Homo sapiens: one gene and its partners. The protein of the gene in region 1 purifies or fractionates together with the protein of each later gene. This does not show direct contact. Each region holds a gene or a part of one and is shown in the gene's direction. Other genes may lie near its edges. The genes, in order: ARL6IP6, YKT6, NAA50 and PMVK.

Region 1 (6,315 bases):
TACGTAAAGAACTCTATAAACCAATAGAAAAAAATGAGAAAAAGTTTTGAACACAAACATCAAAAAAGAGGCTTTCTGAATGGTCAGTAAGTACATTAATCATCAGAAAAATAAATATTAAAACCACTACAACATACTCTGCAGACCTACTAAAATGGTTAAAATTTATAACACTGATAATACCAAGTGTTCATGGTGATGTGGAACAACTTAAACTCATACGTTGATAGTGGAAGTGTAAATTGGTACAACTATTTTTCATACTTTCTACTAAAGCCTAATGTATATCTACCTTGTAACTCAGCAGTTCTACTCCTAGGATCTATCCAAGAGAAATAAGTGCAGATTCCCACCACCCACCGAAGACGTGTTCATAGTACCTGTATGTATAGGAGCCCCAAACTGGAAACACCCATCAGTAGTAAAATGGGTAAATACATTTTGCTATATACTGCAGTAGAAAAGAACAAACTAATACTACATACAACATGGATGAATCTCACAAAGACAGTACTGAGCAAAAGAAGGCAGACGCAGAAAAATATTTATTGTATGATGCCATGTAGATGTAGTTTCAAGAGCAAGTGAAACTAATCTTGGTGACAGCCCTCAGTATTGCAGTTACCTCAAGATCTGCAGGAGGTAAGTTGAATATTTAAAAGGGATCTTTTTGCAGTGCCAGAAATGTTCTCTATCTTTATGTGGTTGGTGAGTATATGAGAGTCTACCACAGTAAAAATGCATTGAACTGTATATAAATGTTAGACATTTGCATTTTACTGGTATGCTTTAATTAAAAAAGTGAAATGCATGTATAGATATAGATTGGATGAGGTAGACATTGTATTTAATTATCATTTATTGAAGATATTAAACTCATTAATTGAAGATAATATTTTCATTTTACTTGAGTCAATTTTAAATAAGTCCTCTATAGAGTTTTGACAAAGGAGAACCATAATTCCTTCAGTCTTTGTTAACAGACTTTAGAGATCACAAATGAGAGTCACAAGAGAGAAAGCCTGCAGGGATTGTCTGTCTTCCTCCAAAGAGGAAAATCATGGTGAATATTTTGAAAAGCTTTAAATTAAAGCAAGTGATTCTTCAAAGATTTAAGTCCTTTACCTAGCAGTAGTCTGTGACAATTGCTACAGTGTTCCCAGTGGGAATATGGTACATTTGAGATGACAAAGACTAGGAACCACTACTCCCGAGCATTTTTTCATTGCCATTAAAATGCATTGCTTTGCCTGCTTAGTAAGGAAGTCACTGAACATTTGAGCATGTACATCTCAGTAAAATTCAATTCTACCAACATTGTAGTTGTCGGCTTAGTAAACTGAACTTTAAAGGTTTTTCTATTTTTGTGGGATTGTGAGGATCACAAACTACTAAAACAGAACAATTAACTCTGGAAACCTTTTGATGATTAACTTTATTGGGTGAGTACAGTCATCCCCCTTTATCTGTGAAGGACTGGTTCCAGGATTCCACACAGGTATCAACATCTGAGGATACTTGAAGTCTCATTCAAAAATGGCTTAGTATTTGCATATAACCTAAGCATATCCTCTCATATACTTTAAAACATCTCCACATTATTTATAATATTATACCTAATACAATGTAAATGTTATATAAATAGTTGTTTTATTGTTCAGGGATTGACAAGGGAAAAAAGTGTATACATGTTCTGTACGGATGCATTTTTTTTTTCAAAATATATTCTACCTGCTTGGTTCATTTCGCAGATGTGGAACCCACTGATATGGAAGACCGAACTGTATTAATTTAAAAGTTTTTTGGATCGTCACTAAATATTTTATGATGAATGATAATGCTGATTGTTCAACTTTAGGTTTCTGTTCACTAGTCATCAACATATATTTGAGGAATTTCTTTTTTAAAGGGACAAAGCATTATACCTATTTTACGATGTAGATAGGTAATATAGGTAGGTAGATTAACCCTTAATAACACATGAGAAGCATCTTTGACTAGCCCTAGTTGGGTAAAGAAAGGTTGAGTCGAAAGTAAATAATAACTCCCTTGGAACAGAGCAGGGAACCATCAGGAAGCATCAGGGTCTATGTAGCTTCAGATGAATGCAAAGGGCTCTTCTTTGAAGAATGTACCTTCTTCAATCTCTGCCACAGATATTGTGCGACTGGAATCACTATGAGGTGCTCTTCAAGTGTTAGTTCACAGCTAAGTGCTTCTCTGGCTTTGGCTACTCCTTAGGAAAGGAGGAGAGGATATGGGTATTTATGACCGTCTCAGTCCAGGGCCCTTACTGCTTTTGTCTTTTGGCTTTTACTTCTGCTAGTGCACCTTCCTGTGTGTCCTCAATTTGTTTTGCTCCAGAAAGGAGAGTATTCTGTTCTGCCTTCTAGAGAGTCTCAGTTGGATACTACCTTCTTTTCTTTTTAATATGTCTGATTCTTACTAGGATAAGCAAATAGTATTATTGCAATACAGTTAGTGGGAAAAACTGTTGTAAGATTGTTACAAGATAAAGGAAACAAATGTCAGGGAATATTCATGCACATAAGAGTTATTAAACTAGTTGGCACTCCTAGCAATCATAAAAGAGATGTGTCTTTGCTGATTCTTAAGAACTCATTGAAAACCACTTCAATTAAGTAACCTATTAGAATGATAGCTGAAATATCTATGAAAGACATAGGGAGTTCCTTCATATAACCTAAAAGTGGTGCAAACAGAACAAATACTTGAAATAATATGTATTTTAAGTCAAATCAAAGTAAGAACAGACAGCATGGAAACACACCGCTAATTAATGAAAGAACTGTTTGTAAAATAACAAAACTTATACCTTAGAATTAGGTTATGGCTACACACAGTGACAATGAAACACAGTAAAGAAATAATAGGGATGAAACTCAGCATTACTCATCAGTAATGATTTGAAACAACTGTAATTGTTAACCAGTACAGTTTTGACACAGGACTTAATAAGATCTATCCACTATTTATCCTGCAGATGTCCAATATTCTTTAAGTTTTGTATTCATATGTGAACATTTGGGAAATACACTCCAAGGTCATAAGTATTTTCGATGAAAACTTTTGGTGTCTTTGTTATACCACGTTACATTTTTCTTTTTTGATTTGTGTTTTTCTTTTTTTCTAGGAAACTGACTGGACATTCTTTCCACATGGGCTATAGCATGGCGATTTTGAATGGCATCGTAGCTGCTCTTACTGTAGCATGGTGCCTCATGTAAACCCACACTGGAGCGATATTGTTGGCAAAACTTAATCATGATTGTTTTGTAATAACAAGAAGGAGCATCACTGTCTACTCAGAAGACTGAGAAACCTGCTGTTCATTATGTAGTTCAGATATTTATCACAATCATCCTCATTATGGAAGACCTTTTAAAGCATTGTTTTAGAATGTCTGAGTATTAAGATACAGATTAATTGGGAATATCTGAGTATTAAGTACTTTCTTCAGAGTATAAGATGTTTACCTCATCTTTTTACTTTTGTGTGTGTAGTTCTTTCAAGTTGTAGGAAACATTTTAATGGAATTTAAACTCAAAAACTTGAATACAGGACAATGCTTGCCTTTTCATGTATGTACTACATTTTTTGCTAAGAAATACTGATATTTCTGTTTAGTTGAGCTAGAAATACTTCTTATTTATACATTTAGGAAAGCAAATAATGCCTACTACTCCGACTTTTATAGAAGCTACTTTTAAATCAGAATATTTAATTTTTGATATTCATATAATTAATAGAAGTTGCATTTATATTTTTTATGGGGCATAGTTCCTTATGTGTTTTTTTAATGTATTTTCATACTACATACTGAATTTGTATGTTTTTAAAATTGTTACATCTAGACAACTGTAAACATTATTTTTTTAGCTAGTGCAAACCTAGTACCTGCCATTTTTACTAATTTTTGTCTTTAAAAAAAGCAAAAAAGCACATTGACCTAAGTTGAAAATTAAGTAAGTTTATTTTTAACAAAAAATGCCTGAAAAAAGCTAAATTATTTAAGTCATTAAGATATTGAGAAAAAATTTGAAATTTTTACTATTTCTGTTTCCACAATTCCAAATATTTATCTTGGTGTATATATTGTTACTTTAACAGAACTTGCATTATTTTGTTTTTAATAAATATAAACATGAAATTTTTGTATGTGAGAATGATTGAACTAGTTTGTTCTTAATCTCAAAAATTTAGTTACCAAAGTAGAAAAGGTATTTTGATACTAGATATTAAAAACTACATATAGTTAATATAATTTTATAATTTTTGTAATTAAATGTGCTCCTGTAATTGTGATATTTTGTTTTCTAAGTAATTAAGCCTTAATTTTTCCCCTATGTTACTAAAGACTTTTAATGTTTAGAAAGTTACCTCAGTTTTAGAAAGATGGACTACTTACAAAGCTGTTTTCCCTGGCCATAGGAAAACTTACAATAAGAAACCATTAAGTAGTCAAACTGCTTATTCAGGCTAAGTGGGAAATGAATTTGTGCAGTGTGTTCCCTTAATTATCTACTGAATGTTGTTACCGACTAAACAAGGTTTCTAAAAGTCTCGCATTTCTTTTACTATTCAAAACTCTTTGGTTGGAAATGACTAATACTGCTCCAATTTAAATTATCTGAAATGTGTGTGTGTGTGTGTGTATCTAAATATCAATCCCATGGCTTAAGTATTCCTACCAGAGTGGTGGTTGCCATCAGTCTATTTTCACTCCCTGCCTTCCTTCCTGCACGCTTAAACTCTTCACCCTTTGACTCCAAAGAGCCCTTTCATTGCAAAGATGTACACAAGTAACAGAATCAATTTATCTTCTCTCCACCACTCTGTATTCCCACGCACCACCAATGTGAGTAACTCCCTCCAGATTGTTTGTGTCTAATGACTAGGAAAGTTATTAACAGTAGACCCTAGATAGAGATATGTACACCCTAGACAGTCATGTGCCATATAACAACGTTTTGGTCACAACGAACTGTACTTATGATAGTGAATCCCCCCGTAAGATTATACTGCTGCATTTTTTACTTTATTTTTTCTCTGTTTAGATACACAAATATTTACCATTGTGTTACAGTTGCCTGCAATATTCAGTACAGTAACATGCAGTACAGGTTTATAGTCTAGGAGCAATAAGCTATACCATATAGCCTAGGTGTGTAGTAGGCTATACCATCTAGGTTTGTGTAAGTATACTCTGATGTTCACACAATGATGAAATTGCCTAATGACGCTTTTCTCAGAATATATCCTTGTCATTAAGCCAAACATGACTATATATACCTACAAGATATATATTAATATAGATAAATATAGAGAGAGATGTATCCGTAAGATATTTTTGTGGAATCCTAATTCTTCTGGACTGTTACTCCCCTTTTTTGGGAAATGACCCTCCTCTCTCCAGTCTGACACAGGGTCCAAATATAAATCATCTATATGCAGAATGATTAGGCAAGGATAGTCACCTAACTCTGGCTGAGCTAATCCTAATCTCATTTTGCCTGGCTACAATGAGTAGAATAGAGAAATGACTTCAGTGAAGTATGTCTCTTCCCAGGATTTTTCAGCTTGAAATTAAGATGTGACGAAGCTGGGAAAATGCAAGCCCAGGAAATGCTGGCAGCTGTAGTTCAGCCAGGCTCAGTGGGAAAGAATAAGGCTGATAACGGATATTGCTAATGGCGTTACCCTGGTCCCTGAAGCCCAGTGGCAATCCTGCCATTCTTGATACGTGAGTCAATAAATTTCTGTCTTTTGGCCTTTGCAGTTTACATTGGCTTTTGTCATTTGCAACAAAACAAGTCAAAATGAGCTTATCTAGCAGCTGGAATCCATCTCTATTGTGAAACTGACTCAGATGATCTCATCTCCTTATGTGTAGCTTACAGCATTCTATTTAGTTACTTGTGAAAGATAAACGGGGTGTAAGTATTCCTGTGGCTAGTGATTAGTCTCAGGGACTTGAAAAGACATTTTAGAATAAATTAAACTATTATTAATCTTGCTGTTTCATCAAGAAATTATGTCCCCAAATTCAGTTCCACCTTAAGTGTTATCAGAAAGAATATTACTGTAGTTATCAAGATATGATTCTTTAGTTAATACAACGTAATGAGTTTGAACTACAACTGTTACTTAATATCTTAGCATTTCCCGGTTTCCTTACCTGTCGAATGGGAAGAATAATACTTAACAAAATACTTAAACTACAGTGAAAATACTACATGTCAGAATTTGTAGGACCTAGATAAAACACTGTGTAAGGGTAATTTATAACTTCAA
Region 2 (3,855 bases), on another chromosome or scaffold:
GAAATATGAGGGGCTCATGTCAGGGCACGTACTGAACAGAGCTGGATTCTCTTTTCTTTTTTGTCCAGCACAACACCATGGAGTCTCTGTTAGAGCGAGGTGAGAAGCTAGATGACTTGGTGTCCAAATCCGAGGTGCTGGGAACACAGTCTAAAGCCTTCTATAAAACTGTGAGTACCCAGCACCTGCTGCCTCCTGGGTGTTCTCTCTAGAGAGCAGTCGCAGCTTGCTGCTTCTGGCACTCTCCACTATGAACGGGTCTTTCTTAGACTGTTGAATCATGGTGGATGATTCCTTGTGCGGCAAGAGCCTAAGGTGAGCGCCTCAGGCCCAGGTGGTTGGAGGCAGTTCACTTGGGCGCCGTTGGAGTCGATGCGGGCCGAGGCCTTGTTCCACTCCTGCCTCTGCTCTGCCCTCTGCTGCTCTGGCTGATTTCTGAACTCCTACTCCCAGTCCAGGAAGGCTGGTTCAAGTTCTGATCACCAGAGATTTACTGTTGAATCTTATTCCTCTTTCTGCTGAGTAGACATAAGTCTTTAAGATGCAAGCAATTCAGCCTTCCTGAAGAGGTTCTTAAGCTTTTAATTTCCCTTTGACAGAAAATATTTAATTGACAAGGATGGGTGCTGCTGACTGCCGCTTTCTCTCAGGTCAGTGCTCATGTCTTCCTATGTGGAGATGGCACTGTTGGCCCATGGTTGGATAGTCATAGGGACAAATTTACTTGGTCTGTCCACACACATTTGCTTTCATGTGCACATTGGAGGGAGATGGCTAGGTGGGATTAGGAAGATAGTCTGTGACCAGAAAGCAAGAGAGAAGGTGGCAACAGTGGTCCCCACAAACCACATCCCAAGTGGGAACCACATCTGTTGTCCTCAGGACCATCTTCTAGGAAGAAACACCACCGTGGTGGTCAGATAGCATTGTGTGAAGACAGGAGTGGGGCAAAGTTAAGATATTCTGCCAATCCCATTTGTATTATTGGTCCTTTGTTTGTACCTGGCCTAACTGTAGGAATTTTACTCACTTTTTGATAGCATTAATGGGGTGTGAGAAAAGAAAGGAAAAAGGATCCCAGACTAGTTTTGGAAGCCGGGGCCCGCCTTGTGCTTGGTGATGGGAATTGCTTGTGGACAGCTTCCCTCAAGGCCTCCACCCCCACCCTGTTCTAGTGCTAGTTTCTCTGCCTGGCTGTGTCCTGTGGAGCTCCCTCTGCCACGCCTGCCAGGATTGGGGCTTCCCTTACTTCGTCAGTCCTCCTTCTCAGCTCCTCTTTGTTTTTTTCCAAGGCCCGGAAACAAAACTCATGCTGTGCCATCATGTGATGCAGCCTGCCAGAGGCCCAATGCTGGAATGGCACCATCATTCACATCAGAACTGCAGCCCCTGGAAAAGAAGAGACAGCCATAGACGAGGAGCCAGAGTGGGGGCAGACTGGCCATTTTTATTTTGAAGTTCCTGCGAGAAATGGATGGTGGAAGGGTGGCGAATGTTCAAATTCATATGTGTGGTAGTGATTCTTGGAAAGAATTTGAGGTCCCCAAAGGTGTATTTTTGGGCAAATGAAACCATAAACTCCGACTGGCTTCTGTAGATGCCAAAGGGCTCTTTTTCAGCTAACCCTGGGAAGGCTCTGTGGGAGGGAGGTCGGAGCCAGCTGTTTCTCGATCTTTGGTATATCTTTGGATCTTATTTGTACATTAATGATATTAACACTCCAGTGGGGGGTGGGGAGTCCCTGATGCTAGGGCTGGGGTGGGTGGAGTTTGAAGACTCTTGGGAAAGCCTCTCCTGGGGCCACTGTTGGGGGTGGGAGTGAGCCCACCACAGAGGCCACAGGCAGGCCCCCACTTCAGGCCCAAGGCCTGGGGCGGGGGGAACAGTCACTGGGTCTCAGATTCTGAGACTGTTGTTTAGCTTACCTTTCTGCTAGGATTGGCTTCCCGCAGAGGGCAGGGCCCATCCTAAGCAGCTTCCAAGTCCCACAAAGGTGGCTTGTGGGAGGATTTGGAAGGAGCTGCATTGTGGGCGGGGAGTGTGTGGGTTGGGTTCGTACCAGCAAGTAGACTAGGAACTGAGCCCAGGAAAGGGGGATGTTTTCCTGGTGTTTGGATGGTCAGCTGGGAGTGTCCATCATCAGGGGAAGATCAAACACAGGTGCACTCAGCTGCCCAGGGCCTCTGGGACACTTGCCTTGACTTGCAACTTGCCTTGAACATCACGATCAAAGCAGCAGGTGCTGTGGTCTCTCAAAATTGATTTTTATTTGACTCTGTGGCTCTAAGACTGCCTTGAACCGCCTGAGGCCTATGCATCTGAACAAGTGGGTCTCTCCCTTGAGCACCAGGAGTGGGTGCCAGCCGGCCCCGAGGATTCCCAGCACCCCACCTATGGTCTTGCCAGCATAGGCTTGCTAGTTCCTTCTTGGTCAGAGGTAGCTGCAGAGGGGGGAGGCCAAGGGTTTGGTCTAAGCTGTGCCCTGCCACCTGGCAGGAGGCCCACTCACTGCCCAAGTCATGGCAACAGGCTGGAGCAGCCCAGGAGATGGGCCTAAAATGTTCTGGATCCCTTGGGTCCTAGTGTTATGTTCCAGTCTGCCCACCTGTGCTCAGGATGCAGCCCTGGGATCCAGCACCCATGGAAGCTTCTGCTGGGATGGTGTCACCTATGGGTTTTGAACCAGTGTGGTATGGTCCTTGGGAGCTCTGCTCTGAGCTTGCCACACTGCTGAGAGCACCCACTGTCCTGACCAGAGTCTCAGTGGTCCTGACCCCCAATGTGGGCAGGGGCTGGGCAGGAGGGTGGGGTCTGCTGTGGGTTCAGAGGACTCCACCTCCTGGCTGGTTTACCTGCTGCTGCCCATTTTCTCTGGGTACTGCTGGCCAGAGGACTTTAGCCTACCCCTGAAGAGCCTGTCCATGTCATTTTCCTACTGCCATAGATACCCTAAGCCCAGGGCCCCTTGAGGCCCAGACTCAGCCTGCCCACTGGTGCCGGAGACGGAGTGGAGTGGGCCTGGATCCGAGGGATGCTACCTCTCCCTTTCCCACTTGAGGACCCTGGGGAGAGATGGGGGCGGGGAAAATGGAGGTATGAATTTGGGGTAAGAGGAAGTGAGATCTCCGCTTGCAGGTCAGCCCCTGCCTTGCAGGGCGGGCTGGCTTGACTCAGGCCCTGTGAGATAGAGGGCCCAGCCCAGCCCCACCCACAGATCCCCTGCTCCTGTTGTGTTCTGTTGTAAATCATTTGGCGAGACTGTATTTTAGTAACTGCTGCCTAACTTCCCTGTGTTCTATTTGAGAGGCGCCTGTCTGGATAAAGTTGTCTTGAAATTTCACAGTGGTCCTGTGCTTTCTTTGTGCTTCAGGGGAATCCTTTCTTCACCAAGCCCTTCCCCCGGGGGAGAGAGTGGCCTCATGCTGTGTGCCTGTGGGCCTGCCGCATGCAAGGGTCCAAGTTATCCTGACCAGCTCCTGTCCAGGAGAGGTAGCTGCAGGCCTGACTCCTTCACCTCCTTTCTATAGACCTTGCTAGCAGGAACTGTATTTTCTTTTTTGCTGTTAACCAGGTGAGGGAGCCCTGGAGTAGAAGAAGCCCTGTCATTGCTGAATCCTGTTGCCTGGTCTTAGCTGCAGCCAGGAGACCCACCCTAGGAAAGCTGCCTCATAGCTGCAGAGCCATGGGACAGGAGGCCCCATCCCCATCCTGATCCCGCTGTAGGCTTCCTGTCCCTCACCGCTGACCCCAGGGTCAATCTGAGACCACCTGGCATCCCACCAAGCACAGGTGGCAACTTTTCAGGAGCAGAGGGGGCTCCACAGGGTACCTGGAAGCTTCCTGGTTCCTGGAGGA
Region 3 (7,038 bases), on another chromosome or scaffold:
CACTTTGGGAGGCCAGGGTGGGCGAGCCTATCACTTGAGGCCATAATTTCAAGACCAGCCTGGCCAACATGGTGAAACCCCATCTCTACTAAAAATACAAAAATTAGTTAGGAGTGGTGGCACATGCTTGTAATGACAGCTGTTTAGGAGGCTGAGGCAGGAGGATTGCTTGAACCCAGGATGCGGAGGTTGCAATAAGCTGAGATTGCACCGCTACACTCCAGCCTGAGCAACAGAGGGAGACTCCGTCTCAAAAAAAAAAAAAAAGAAAAGGAAAAAAGTGTATCAAGAGTAAGCCTTTTTGAGATACCATGTGAACAAAGACTTGGAGTTAACATATACTGCAGCCAAGGATGGAGAGGCCATCAATTGACAGGAAAAACTGCAAGCAAAGCAGATTTTGGAACAAAGATTTGAAATTGTTTGCAGTATGTTCACTTTGAAGTGTCTGCTGGAGATTGCTTGGATCTAGGAATGTAGAGTTCAGGAGTGAACTATAGGCTAGAGACAGAAATTTGGAAATTGGCAGCATTAAAGCCACACAACTACAAGATTGAATGAGATCACCAAGAGAATAATTATAGAGAAGATAACCAAATGCGTCCATATACGAGGCCGTCATAAAATTGGTTCTTTTTCAGCTTCCGCATTTATACACAAGCATACTTGATGTTTTAGCCATATCAAACTGACTGATTTTCGGACTACATCACTGCTGTTTTGTTCATGTTTTATTAGACTGCATCTCTTGCCCTTCCACAGGATAAGCTAGTCGTTCTTCAAAATGTTTCCCATTGTCACCTTCATTCTAGTATTATTTTTGTACTATATGTACATACACTGTTAGTAGCACATTGTATATACCTGTCTTTCCTACCAGATGTAAACACCTTTGCATTCCAGATGCATAACACATAGATACTCAAATATTTATTGAAATATAATTGATTTATGCTTTAGGCAACTCTATTATGTTCATAAGAACTTTAGAAAAATTTAGATTGACAGAATTTTTTAAATCTCCATTAGGTTAGTTTTTTAATAGAGAATTTGGACTTTTAACTTAATTTTTTATAGGTTATTCTAACTAAAACCTTTTTGGTTGTTTACATTCAAGTAATGTTATTTTCTTGACATGTCTACATATCCCTTATGCTTATGCCTTTTTTTTTTTTTAACTCCGTGTTCCTTGCTAACTTATATTTACAAGTTGATTATAGTACTTTGATATATTTAGAAAATCCATGTCTTAAAATAATTTGGAGCTAAGTGATCAGGATTACAGAAGTATTCCATTTCAGTCAGACATATCATGTTAATGAGAGTTAAACTATATTTGAAGCTCAGTTTTGCTGACAAGGTTACATTAAGTGAACATTTTGAAATTTTTCTAGCATATTTGTTTCTTGCAAAAATCAAATTAATTTCTCAAAAACAGCTTAATTTTTCCAACAGCTACCAAACAATACTTAAATCTCAAATTTGTTTAAAGCGTGTATATACATATATATAACGCGCATAGAAAAATATTGGAAGACTATCAGCAAACTTATTTCTGGCCATATTATTGCAGGATATTTTCCCTTTCTACGTCATTTCTATGGTGTGCTTTAAAAAAAAAAAAGGCATGTATTTTTTTAATTAGTTAGGGGAAGATTAAGCTGCCTATTTCCTAATGGTTCAATATTGTTTTCTCTATTTAGGCTTTATCTGGCCACCCTAATGGAAACTTTTTTTAGTAGTTAACTTTTATTAGACTCATTGTAGCACAGTGCACTATAACCACTTTTTCTTCTTGTATGAAGTCAAGAAATACCTGGTATTATTCTTTGAAAACTGTAAGTATGCTTGAAGCCTAGTTACTACCTACAAATGATTCCTAAAGTTTTAAAAACCTCAAGTTCTTTCATTTATACTTTAGAAGCTTGACTTTGTAGGTTCTTAAGTTACTATTATTGTTGATACTTCAACTTCATAATGTAATTTTAAATCACTTTTTAAATACTAAGACTTTTTTTTAAATGAGATGCTCTAAATTAATACAAACTGTATATAAAAAAATTACTACACCCAACTTGTGGCACTATGGTAAGTTAAACAGGAGACAGTGTAGGTAAGATGTGATCCCTGTCAGCTACTGCATTTTTAAAGGATCCTATATTTTGGCCAGGCACAGTGGCTCACGCCTGTAGGCCCAGCACTTTGGTAGGCCAAGGTGGGCGGATCACTTGAGCTCAGGAACTGTAGACCAGCCTGGGCAACATGGTGAAACCCTGTCTCTACAAAAAATTCAAAAATCAGCTGGGCGTGGTGGCATGTGCCTTCCTCAGCTACTCGTTAGGCTGAGGTGGGAAGATCACTTGAGCCTGAGAAGCGGAGGCTGCTGTGACCTGTAATTATGCCTGGGCAACAGAGCAACCCTGTCTCAAAAAAAGAAAAATAAAGGATTCTATAGTTTACAGGATAACAGTATCCACAGATTTTTCTTTCTTTCTTTCTTTTTTTTTTTTTTGAGGCGGAGTCTTGCTCTCTCGCCCAGGCTGGAGTACAGTGGTGCGATCTTGGCTCACTGCAACCTCTGCCTCCTGGGTTCCAGTGATTCTTCTGCCTCAGCCTCCCGGGTAGCTGTGACTACAGGCACGTGCCACCACACCGGGCTAATTTTTGTATTTTTAGTAGAGACAGAGTTTCACCATATTGGCCAGGCTGGTCTCAAACTCTTGACCTTATGATCTGCCCACCTTGGCCTCCCAATTTTTTTTTTTTTTTATGTGAATGGTAGATAGTGGGGAAAGTGAGCCCAGTAGATTTTAGTCAGAAAAGTGTTATGAAGAGGGGGAGTTCTGTGAATGAGATGTAATCTACTTAAAGAAAACATGAATTTCATACAGGGAATTCATTATAGTTGTCAAATACTTGGGATGAGAAAAGACTATACTTAAGTGACTAGAAGTTGGAAGAGACTATAACAAGAAAATGTCTATTTTTTTATTTTTACTTTTTTAAACTTCCTATGGTGCTGAGGGGTTTTTTAAATATATAAATCTCTTACCCTTTTACTAACATGTTTGTTTATTTAATCTGTGTGGTTGCTAAGAAACTATGTTCAGATTTTAGGAAGACATACAAGACATGAAAAGATCATTGGTTGCAACAAATAATACAGATTAGTGGTATAAAAAATAATCAAGGCAGGAAGGATAAAGTTCCAAATGAGCTAAGCCTTTCAAAACTGCTAAGTATGACAGAAACGATGCTTTATGCTGTCTTTTGTGTTCTTCATACAGACTACTTAAATAGGGGGTAAAAGTCTCTTGTTTTTGCCTCTAACTCCTTACCAAGTAGAATGTTCTCCAAACTGGGCATTATAGAGTAATACATCTTAGAGAACTTTGTACTATAAGATAAAATATTACATCATATTCCTCTCCAGATAAATCAAATTTAGAAATTTCTTTTTTTATCTGTAATTATTGCTGTTTTTTGTTTTGTTTTTGAGACAGTCTGTCACCCAGGCTGGAATGCAATGGTACACAATCATAGCTTACTGCAGCCTCGACCTTCCAGGCTCAAGCAGTCCTCTCACTTCAGCCTTCTAAGTAGCTGGGACCATAGGTGCACGCCACCACACCTGGTTAAGTTTTTTTAAAAAAATTTCTTACAAAGTTTTGCTATATGCCCAGGTTGGTCTTGAACTCCAGGGCTCAAAGGATCCTCTCACCCCGGTCTCCCAAAGTGCTGGGATTACAGGCCTTCATGCCCAGCTGTTTTTTTTTGTTTCTGTTTTTGTTTTTTTGCATTTTAATCTAAATTTTAACATTTCAAAATACAGTTTTTAAAATTACAATTTCTACTACAAATTAAAATCCTTTCAAGCATGTTTTTGTATATGTTAACAAAAGTCCGTTGTTAAATATAGTTGAAATGTGCTTTTTCTCTACAAAACACAATATGCTACAACATCTTTTTGGGCAAATAATACGGATGGAGCAAAAAAATTGTAGAATGCTGTCAGGTTTGCCTTATCACATTTGATCCACCTTTAACAGTATTGAAGTTCACTTCAGCTATTAAAAATTCTTTGTTTACAGCTCTGCAGGCAGAATACCTTTGATACTTTGTTAGAAATTGGAACTGAAAATTTTTCGCTTTAATCTTTTCCATGGACCCAATTGTTTTGATTACAAGTGGTTTCTTAGGAATGCTCCTTTTATTAGTCCTTTCTCATGCTGCTAATAAAGACATACCCGAGACTGGGTAATTTATAAAGGAAAGAGGTTTAATTGACTCACAGTTGCGCAGGGATAGGGAGGTCTCAGGAAACCTATAAACATGGTGGAAGGGGAAGCAAACACATCATTCTTCACATGGTGGCAGGAAGGAGAAATGAGAGCGAAGTGAAGGAAAGCCTCCTTATAAAACCATCAGATCTTGTGAGAACTCACTATCACGAGAACAGCATGAGGGCAACCGCCCCCATGATTCGCCGGGTCCCTCTCACAACATGGGAATTATGGGAACTACAAGATGAAATTTGGATGGGGACACAGCCAAACCATATCACTCCTGTTGCTTTCTTAATGGATAGTTTTCATCCTGGGGTGATTTTCAAGATGGTGGATTCCTTTGTTTCGTTTCCAGCAACTCTGGTTCTGAAAATGGGGTATGTGTATCCAGGAATGTGAATTTTGCATATCACCTCTGTGACTCTGATGTAGGTAGTTCATAGACCACGGTTTTCATGAATAGAATGTGCATGGTATTGCATACCTCCATTGTTTTCTTAGAATAAATTACTAGAAGTAATAAGATACTTGGGCAAAGGAACTGTAATTTTACCAGAAATAGGTGTATCTAAATTTTTCTGAACTATGAACTACAAGGAAAATTTTGACACTTGCAGAATGTTATTCTGGCCTTTGTAGTAGTCGTTGTGTACCATATTTGTCCCTGAATGTATGTAATTATATGAAAGCTATGAGTAGAATTTGTATTGAATGACTGTCAAAATTTGCTTATAAATGATAATTTGCTTATAAATCAACTCTGAAAGAGTTGGATTTATCAATCATGTAAAAAAGACTTGGTACCCCTTTCATATGTTCATATTAACAAATGGGGCTAATTATGTTTTATTGAGTACATTTTGATTTGTTCCAGTAGCCGGATCGAGCTGGGAGATGTGACACCACACAATATTAAACAGTTGAAAAGATTGAATCAGGTCATCTTTCCAGTCAGCTACAATGACAAGTTCTACAAGGATGTGCTGGAGGTTGGCGAGCTAGCAAAACTTGGTATAATATAGTTTTTTTTTTGTCCTCCCTTCTTTTCTTTCTTTTTGTTCTTGAACCCTAGTTTTTTATAGAGCAGAAGAAGTTAACTAATTTAGTTTGTTTATTTTATAAGTGAGGAAATGGGAGTGGTCTAGGTTGTGAGAAAAATCTCAGAGAAATCAGTTGAATAAAACAGTTGAATTTTAAAAAGAAATGCTTAGTGTTCTTAGTGTATACCTGTGTGTTTTCACTTTAAGCTATACTCTAGAGGAGGCTTAAACTTCCTAAGATGGCATAAGAGCTTTGAGATCATTGATATTCATGAAATAGTTGATGAAATTTAATGTTGATAGGAACAGTGTAGTCCTTTAAAAGGGAAAAAGATTAAATGTGTTATTCTGTCTGTTCAACATTATATCTTTATGTTTTCCTTGGCAGCCTATTTCAATGATATTGCTGTAGGTGCAGTATGCTGTAGGGTGGATCATTCACAGAATCAGAAGAGACTTTACATCATGACACTAGGATGTCTGGCACCTTACCGAAGGCTAGGAATAGGTAAAAAATTGTGGTTTTTTTACTTCTTCAGAGAAGCATAAACATATTATTTGTTAATGTGTCTGACCTAGTAAGTTAATTTGGGTCTTTTTAAGGAATACTGAGAAAGGGTTACTGAATTATGTAAAATATGGTGAAAAATAACTAGTGTTTATTAACATAATTCTATTGGAAGCCCTACATAGATTTGCTGTTTACGTCCCCTTCTGCTTTTTCTGTTTTTCTTCTACCCGGAAGTGCTTGTTTAAAAAGGTTAGTCTTCTGCTAACAGTTTTAAACATACGTAGCTATTGTAGAGAGAGAACACAACTTTGGAAAATAAGGATATCTAGTGTATACCTCATAAATTCTTTTAGGACTCAATAAGTAGTTCAGATGGCAAGTGGATAGATACATAATTTAAAGGTTGATTTATGAAGTCACGTGTTTGTTATTTATTTTATTAACAGGAACTAAAATGTTAAATCATGTCTTAAACATCTGTGAAAAAGATGGTACTTTTGACAACATTTATCTGTAAGTAAAATAATATTTAATGTTCTTATCAAAGGGGTTTAATTGGCAGGAGAAATCTTTACTAGAAACTTTAAAATCTGGTCACTTATTGTGCCTTTGGAAACACTGTGGAAGTAGTTGTTACAAAGTATTCGAGTAGTTGTTAGTTTTGTTTAGTTTTGTTTTATTAATAATAGTAGATTAGGAACCTGAGATAGAACACATTGCTTTATTATATTAGGATGAGAGCACCAAAGTCACAGGGATGAAATCAGGATTAAAACTCAGGCCTTCAGAATTCAAGACTATTAATACTACTTTTCTCATGCAAAACCTTGTGTGTTTTGTTCAAGGCTATGTTGATAGCTTTGAACATTGTAGTAGATCATTTGTAGTAGAGTTTAATAATCAAAATCAGAGATTACCTAGCTGAGATTGTACTTGAATCTCAAGAGGCTGTAGATAAAGAGTTATGACTAAGATCACAGTCATGGATGTTCATAATTTAGTTTGGCCATGTGAGAGATTGAATTATACAGTGTTATTTTGGGAGTAATTGAGAAAGCTTGCGTTTTTAATTTTTAAAACATACCATGTATTTTATCAATCAGAAGGAAGATATATCTTCAAGCTTTGAGACCCTAGTTTTTTATTTTTCATCATTTTTTTTCTGTGTGTTAATAGGGCCTTTTAATAATTTATCCTCTTA
Region 4 (7,121 bases), on another chromosome or scaffold:
TGGTTCCCCGATGTGGCAGGAGCTGGCGGGAAAAGATGCTAACTAGCATTCAGGTCTCAATACTGTGCTAGATGCTGTGGGGCCCCCCAATCCTTGCCCCGAGGCTAATTGGATTAGCTGCATACAAAGCAGAATTTTAATAGTACTCTCTTAATGGTGCCAGGAGCAGTCTGCCAACTGGGTGAAGAGGAAGAAAGGGGTGGCCTTTGAGTTGGATCTTGAAAGATAATAGGATTTCAGAGATGGGAGAATGGGGGAAGGTATTTCAGGCTAGGCAAAGGTGAGGCCTGAGGTAAGGGTGTTATAGCCTATAGCTAGATGGTTCACAGAGGGGGCAAATTCTGCCACTGGCAGCCTGCAGGTCTGAGGGGATGGCTACTGTAGGAAATGGGAGGGGTGCCACTAATCCTCACCATTCCCCCCACCCTCCACTTCCTCTCCAGAGCAGGGCCCCTTTGCAGGAGTTCTCACCAGCATGGGGCACTTACCTTCGCTCAGCCCCAGGGGAGGCATTCAGCAGAGGGGAGGGTCATCCATTGAGGTCATCACTGAGACTCTGTTCAAAATCAAAGGGACAGGTCATCTGGCTAGAGCAGGATAGGCAGACACCTGAAGCCACATGCTGTGGAGAGGAAAGTGCTAGATAGCTCCCTTTGGAAGGTCCATTGCCCATGGGTCAAACAGGCTGGCCATCAATGCTTGCTCATCTGGAATGACAGGACTAGTCCAGAAATAGTGGCATGAGGCCAGCAAAGGAACAGGCTGGCTGGGCGCTGTGGCTCATGCCTGTAATTCCAGCACTTTGGGAGGCTGAGATGGGAGGTTGGCTTGAGGCCAGGAGTTCGAGACCAGCCTGGGAAACATAGCAAGACCTTATCTCTACTAAAAATTAAAAAAAAAAAAAAAAGTTTAACTCAGCATGGTGGCACACACCTGTAGTCCCAGCTACTCAGCAGGCTGAAGGTGGAAGGATTGCTTGAGCCCAGGACATCAAGGCTGCAGTGAGCTTATGATCCGCCACTGCACTTCCAGCCTGGGCACAGAGTGAGACCCTGTCTCAAAAAAAGAAAAGAAACAAGCCATGGCTGTCATCTAGGTGGATCATTAACTTTTCTTTCTTTTTTTTTTTTTTTTTTGAGATGGAGTCTCGCTCTGTTGTTCAGGCTGGAGTGCAGTGGCGTGATCTCTGATCTCCGCTCACTGCAAGCTCCACCTCCTGGGTTCACGCCATTCTCCTGCCTCAGCCTCCCGAGTGTAGCTGGGACTACAGGTGCCTGCCACCACGCTTGGCTGTTTTGTTTTTTTTTTTTTGTATTTTTAGTAGAAATGGGGTTTCACCGTGTTACCCAGGATGGTCTCGATCTCCTGACCTCGTGATCTGCCCGCCTCGGCCTTCCAAAGTGCTGGGATTACAGGCATGAGCCACTGCACCGGGCCACATTTAACTTTTTTCCCCTGGGTTGTGGAAGGCAGGCAGAGCATGTTATATAATGTAACCAGTTCCACCAGCTAGTGGACTTGGGAGGGAAGTGCTACTTTGGGGAGTATTTGAGCAAGTGACCTTGGAGGGTTGGGTGGATGAGCATGTGAGTTTGCAGGTTGAGCAGCTTCTGGTGATGACAAAGCCCAGGGTGTGTCCATAGGAGCTGGCCTCTGAGGAGGAGAGGGGGGAAAAGGCTTTGAACAGCCAGGGCCAAGGGATTGAGCAGCGGGGTGTTGGATGGGCTGGCCATGACCGTGATGTCACCGAGGATGATGACAGCAACTCTGTAGAAAAGGAGACTGGGAGCCAGTGGCTGAGTCTCAGAAAATGAGAATGAGGCTGGGTGCAGTGGCTTACACTGGTAATCCCGGCACTTTTGGAGGCTGAGGCCAGAGAGGACTGCTTGAGCCCAGGAATTCCAGACTAGCCTGGCCAACATAGCAAGACCCCGTCTGCATAAAGAAACAAAAGAAAATGAAAATGAACCACCAGGATTGCTGGGCTGCCAGTACTGAGGAAAGCAGGAGGGTAGCGCAGGCAGGTGGCATGAGCCTTAGAGGAACCATAGTTTTCCAAGAGGCAGGATGAGTAATGGTGTGGAAATTAAAATGGGGAGGAAGGGAGGCCATAGACTCAAAGCGGATGCTGAGGGATGAGGGCTGGGAGACTAAAGCCTCCACTTGAGACACCAGTAAGGGACAGTGGAGTTCAGTTGAGGCATACTAGGAAGCCTAGTATGGGGGAAGTTTTTTTTTATTTTTTGAGACGGAGTCTTTTTCTGTTGTCCAGGCTGGAGCGCAGTGGTACAATCTTGGCTCACTGCAACCTCTGCCTCCCAGGTTCAAGTGTTCTCATGCCTCAGCCTCCTGAGTAGCTGGATTGCAGGTGCCCGCCACCACGTCCAGCTATCCAGCTAATTTTTGTATTTTTAGTAGAGATGGGGTTTCACCATGCTGGCCAGGCTGGTCTCGAACTCCTGCCCTCAGGTGATCCGCCTTGGCCTCCCAAAGTGCGGAGATTACAGGCGTGAGCCTGGGGGAAGTTTTCTGATCGCTCACTAGGTATTCAGGGAGCTGGATCTCAGAGTCAGAGAGGGAGGTAAGGGGCGTGCATTGGGTCAGGTGAGGAAAGAGACTCCGGGAGTAAGTTCTGACTCCTTCCATGTGACTCAGGTAAAACAGGAGATGTGGACTTTCCGTGGAGGCCCAAATACATGTTTATTGAAGATGAGCTGGAAAATCTGATTCTGTGTTGAATGACGAAGTGCTAAGAATAAATAACAACCCCTTACATCTGGATGATACTTGAGAACTTACAAAGTATTTTATTGTACCTTGTCATATATTTTCTTCATTCCTTTCTTATTATAACCCTGGGAAGTGGGCCTTATCAGTGGTAAACTCAGAGTGACTTGCTAAGTGTCCAAGCTGGGACTGAAAATCCACTCTGTGCTGCCTTCTAGGGCGTTGATGAGTGCAGTGTTTTCTGGGTTGCTGAAAAAAAACAAAAAAAACCCCAAAAAACAAAAAACCACCTCCTTAAGTCTGTTCTTTTTGCATCTGACCACTCTCCTGTGCCTCTTTTCAACATTCAGGAAATTAATGGTTTCTCCCTAAGTCTCCACACTACACTTTTTCTCTAGTGGAGGCAGTAATGAGTTGCAGGCTCTGTTCTGACATGCTCAGAAAAATGCAGGACGGCAAGTCATAGCCAAAAACAACTCGACGTACTCAGCTGGGGCAACCCGTCACCTACTGCGGGAAGAGGCAGAACCGGGGATGCAGGGAAAGGACAGATTATTCTTATCCTGCCTCTCAAACTTCTGGCTGGGAGCCAGACTTCGGATGAAACCAGGCAATCTCATCTAGGGATTCAACGCTCCCTTACTATTGATGTCACCCACGCCGTTTGCTTCCGAAAACCTTTGGGCCGGAGGCTGCGGCTAGAAAAGCAATCAAAGGTTTCTCGCCGGGCTTAAAGGGCCACATCTTAGTGACGTCTCGGGTTATAAAATCTGCTTGACAATGAAATATCGTGTGCGCGATTCTGCTCCTCCCCCGACATGACGTGGCCAGACACGCCGCTCGCGTCAGGGCTGCCTTACGCCCCCAGGAAGACCCATTCCCACTCTGGGGCGCGCGCAGATTTGCTGTGGCACATGTACTATAACGCACAGGCAAAAGGGCAGTTTCCAAAACGTCTCCAACGTGATCTCACTCCAGAGATTTTTTTTCCTAAAGTTTTAGGGCTGCGCGGAAGGGAACATGGGGTTCACCTCAGGAAATTTCAGACGTCACCCCCCTCGGAGGAAGGTAGTCGCGTCCGGTTCCTCCCCGGGTGTCAGTTAAGCAGGCCAGGCTGTGAGCGAAGGTTCTGGGCGGGGCTGGACTGTTCTAAGTGAGTTCGGGTGGGGGAGCTTCACGAGGGGAGGCTGCTCTGTGAAGGAACCGCCTTTCTCTCCGCGTGTCTCACCCTTTTCTCCCCATATCTGTTTGGACATGAGCTGAGGGCACGGTCGCGGGCGGTCAGCCCTGTTCGCAGCTACGGCGAGGAGGGGCGCGATTGTTCCTTGTTGCCGCTCCGCTTAGTGGCCGCGTCCATTCCGCGCGGTGTCCCGATTTTAGGGGTAGGGAGAAGTGTCAGCTTCAGGCATCGCGAGGCGTGGCGGCCCCATGGCCCCGCTGGGAGGCGCCCCGCGGCTGGTACTGCTGTTCAGCGGCAAGAGGAAATCCGGGAAGGACTTCGTGACCGAGGCGCTGCAGAGCAGGTGTCCGTGAGGCGGGAAAGGTGGAAGGGGGAGCTCTCCGCATCACGTGACACGAGGAGTGCTTTTGGGTGTCACGGAGTGAGCTTTGGAGTACGGGTCGTCCGTTTGCAAGGCAGGAGGAGCACTGGGCTGGGGAAGGTGGAATGCCACCATTACATAAAACAGTAGTCTACACAGGCGAGCCTCAAAGAAGCAGGTGACCACCTCTCCAAAGACCTTCAGCTGCAGGTCTCTCTGAGAAGCATTAATAATGGTTCCTACGAAGGCACTTTCTATATACCAGGCGTTGGATACCAGCCTGGGCAACATGGCGAGACCCCGCCTCTACGAAAAATCCAAAAAGTAGCTGGGCGTGGTGACGCGTGCCTGTGGTCCCAGCTATTCAGGAGCCTGAGGTAGAAGAATCGCTTGAGCCCGGGAGGCGGAGGTTGCAGTGAGGCGAGATTGGCCACTGCACTCCAGCCTGGGCGACAGAGCGAGACCCTGTCTTAAAAAAACAAAACAAAAAACCCTCTTCACCTCTTTGTTAGGTACTGTGTGCCATTATTAGCATCTCCATTTCACAGGTGAAGAAACTGAGGCTCTTAAAAAGTTAAACAGGCCGGGTGTGGTGGTCATGTCTGTCACCCCAGCACTTTGGGAGACAGAGGTGCGAGGATGGCTTGAGAGCCCAGTAGTGGAGACCAGCCTGGGCAACACAGTAAGACCCTAGTCTCTACAAAAAAATGGAAAAGTTAGCCTAGTGCGATGGCGAGCACCTCTAGTCCAAGCTACTCAGGAGGCTGAGGTGGGAGGATCGCTTGAACCTGGGGGCTACAGTGAATTGTAATCATGCTACTGTCCTCCAGTCCTTGCAGCAGAGCCTGAGACCCTGTCTCGAAGTAAAATAAAATAAAATAACATACGAAGTTAACAACAAAAAACCCTTGCTGGTCACAAAGTAAGTGGCAAATCCAGGATTCAAATTCAGCTTTGTGGTTCATGATGGGCATCTCAGCAATTAATATATAATTGAAACAAAAAGAAAAAAAACCCAAACAAATTCAACTTTATCTTGCGCCAAGGACTGGTTTCTTTCTGTTTTATCTGGCTGCCTCCCCAAATAATAATACCTTTTGCACAGTGTTTTCTGTCAAAGCAAGATCTTCTGTGCAGGAGCATTTTGCTGAGACCTGGGCTAGGAGAGCAGAGGTTGGGGAGAAAGTGGGGCTCCTCTCCTCTTGAAGGCCAGTGTGGTGGGGGTACCAGGAAGCTGCTTTTGGGTACCACGGGGGTTCTATGAAGGTGTGGGAGAGCCCAGAGCAGAGGTCACCACCTGAATTTTTCATCACTAAGTATCTCACCACCTTTTCCTAAGTTGCATTTCTCCTCACCTCCAAACCCTGACGTCAAATAGTGGTCCGAAGCACAGGCTCTGGAATTAGACTGCTGGGATGCAAACCCTGGCTCACTGTTGATTAGTGTGTGATCTTGTACACATCTGTCATTCACTCTGTGCCTCATGTTTTTTTTTTTTTTTTTTTTTTTTTTTTGAGACGGAGTCTTGCTCTGTCACCCAGGCTGGAGCGCACCCAGGTTGCGGCTCACCGCAACCTCTGTCTCCTGGGTTCAAGCGATTTTCCTGTCTCAGCCTCCCGAGTAGCTGGGATTACAGGTGTGTGCCACCATGCCCAGCTAACTTTTGTATTTTTAGTAGAGACAGGTTTCACCATGTTGGCCAGGCTGGTCTGGAACTCCTGACCTCAGGTGATCTGCCTGCCTCGGCCTCCCAGAGTGCTGGGATTACAGACGTGAACCACCACCGCACCTGGCCTGCGTCTCAGTTTTGTCATCTGTAAAATGGGGATGATAATAGGGTGGTTGTGGGGATTAAATGAGATAATGTGTGTGAAGGGCTTAGAATAATTATTGGCACCTAGCAGAGGTGCAGGAACTAAATGTTGGCTATATTTATTTTACCAATCTTGGCTTCACTACTTGCAGTGTTGCTTTGGGGGAGTCAATCCTCCTTTCACAACCTCAGCTTCCTCATCTGAAACATGAAAATAAGAACACTTACAGCCAGGGCAACATAGTGAGACCCCCTCTCTACAAAAGATAAAAAAAATTAGCTGGGTATGGTGGTGCATGCCAGTAATCCCAGATACTCAGGAGGCTGAGGTGCGAGGATTGCCTGAGCCCAGGAGTTCAAGATTGTAGTGAGCTGTGATCATACCACTGCACTCTAGCCTGGGTGACAGCAAGACCCTGACTCTTAAAAAACCAAACCAAAACAAAACAAAGAACACTTATCGTTGGGCGCAGTGGCTCACGCCTGTAATCCTAGCACTTTGAGAGGCCGAGAAGGGTGGATCACTTGAGCTCAGGAGTTCGAGACCAGCCTGACCAACATGGTAAAACCCTTCTCTACTAAAAATACAAAAATTAGTGGGACGTGGTGGCGCCGGCCTGTAGTCCCAGTTACTTGGGAGGCTGAGGCAGGAGAATAGCTTAAACCCAGGAGGTGCAGGTTGCAGTGACCTGAGATTGCACCACTGCATTCCAGCCTGGGCTACAGAGTGAGACTCAGTCTCAAAAACAGCACTTATCTTCCTGTGCGTTAAGTGTATTGTGAGCATCTCAAGGCTAGGACAGGAAGCATGTATCATTCACATTTGTATCACCTAGATCCAAATATGGTACCCAATAAATGGTTGGTTAAGCCAGGAGGCAGAGGTTGTGGTGAGACGAGATGGTGCCACTGTACTCCAGCCTGGACGACAGAGTGAGACTCTGTCTCAAAAAAGAGAAAAAAAGAAGGGCCGTGTGCGGTGGCTCACGTCTGTAATCCCAGCACTTTGCGAGGCTGAGGCGGGCGGATCACGAGATCAG

The links.
Region 2: the proteins of ARL6IP6 (region 1) and YKT6 purify together in Homo sapiens (affinity purification with mass spectrometry; 3 studies listed by BioGRID and IntAct, with this or other methods). This does not show direct contact.
Region 3: the proteins of ARL6IP6 (region 1) and NAA50 purify together in Homo sapiens (affinity purification with mass spectrometry; 3 studies listed by BioGRID and IntAct, with this or other methods). This does not show direct contact.
Region 4: the proteins of ARL6IP6 (region 1) and PMVK purify together in Homo sapiens (affinity purification with mass spectrometry; 3 studies listed by BioGRID and IntAct, with this or other methods). This does not show direct contact.

The regions. Positions count from the first base shown.
Region 1 is NC_000002.12:152,756,593-152,762,907, forward strand, and holds the end of ARL6IP6 (ADP-ribosylation factor-like protein 6-interacting protein 6), read left to right. Parts: intron 1-3,154; coding exon 3,155-3,248; 3' UTR 3,249-5,804; downstream 5,805-6,315.
Region 2 is NC_000007.14:44,210,955-44,214,809, forward strand, and holds the end of YKT6 (synaptobrevin homolog YKT6), read left to right. Parts: intron 1-68; coding exon 69-170; intron 171-599; coding exon of another isoform or gene 600-614; exon of another isoform or gene 615-654; intron 655-1,292; coding exon 1,293-1,328; 3' UTR 1,329-3,340; downstream 3,341-3,855. UniProt on the Homo sapiens protein: Vesicular soluble NSF attachment protein receptor (v-SNARE) mediating vesicle docking and fusion to a specific acceptor cellular compartment. Functions in endoplasmic reticulum to Golgi transport; as part of a SNARE complex composed of GOSR1, GOSR2 and STX5.
Region 3 is NC_000003.12:113,722,218-113,729,255, reverse strand, and holds part of NAA50 (N-alpha-acetyltransferase 50), read left to right. Parts: intron 1-5,160; coding exon 5,161-5,297; intron 5,298-5,714; coding exon 5,715-5,834; intron 5,835-6,283; coding exon 6,284-6,350; intron 6,351-7,038. UniProt on the Homo sapiens protein: N-alpha-acetyltransferase that acetylates the N-terminus of proteins that retain their initiating methionine. Has a broad substrate specificity: able to acetylate the initiator methionine of most peptides, except for those with a proline in second position.
Region 4 is NC_000001.11:154,933,720-154,940,840, reverse strand, and holds the start of PMVK (phosphomevalonate kinase), read left to right. Parts: upstream 1-4,121; 5' UTR 4,122-4,155; coding exon 4,156-4,250; exon of another isoform or gene 4,251-4,393; coding exon of another isoform or gene 4,394-4,446; intron 4,447-7,121. UniProt on the Homo sapiens protein: Catalyzes the reversible ATP-dependent phosphorylation of mevalonate 5-phosphate to produce mevalonate diphosphate and ADP, a key step in the mevalonic acid mediated biosynthesis of isopentenyl diphosphate and other polyisoprenoid metabolites.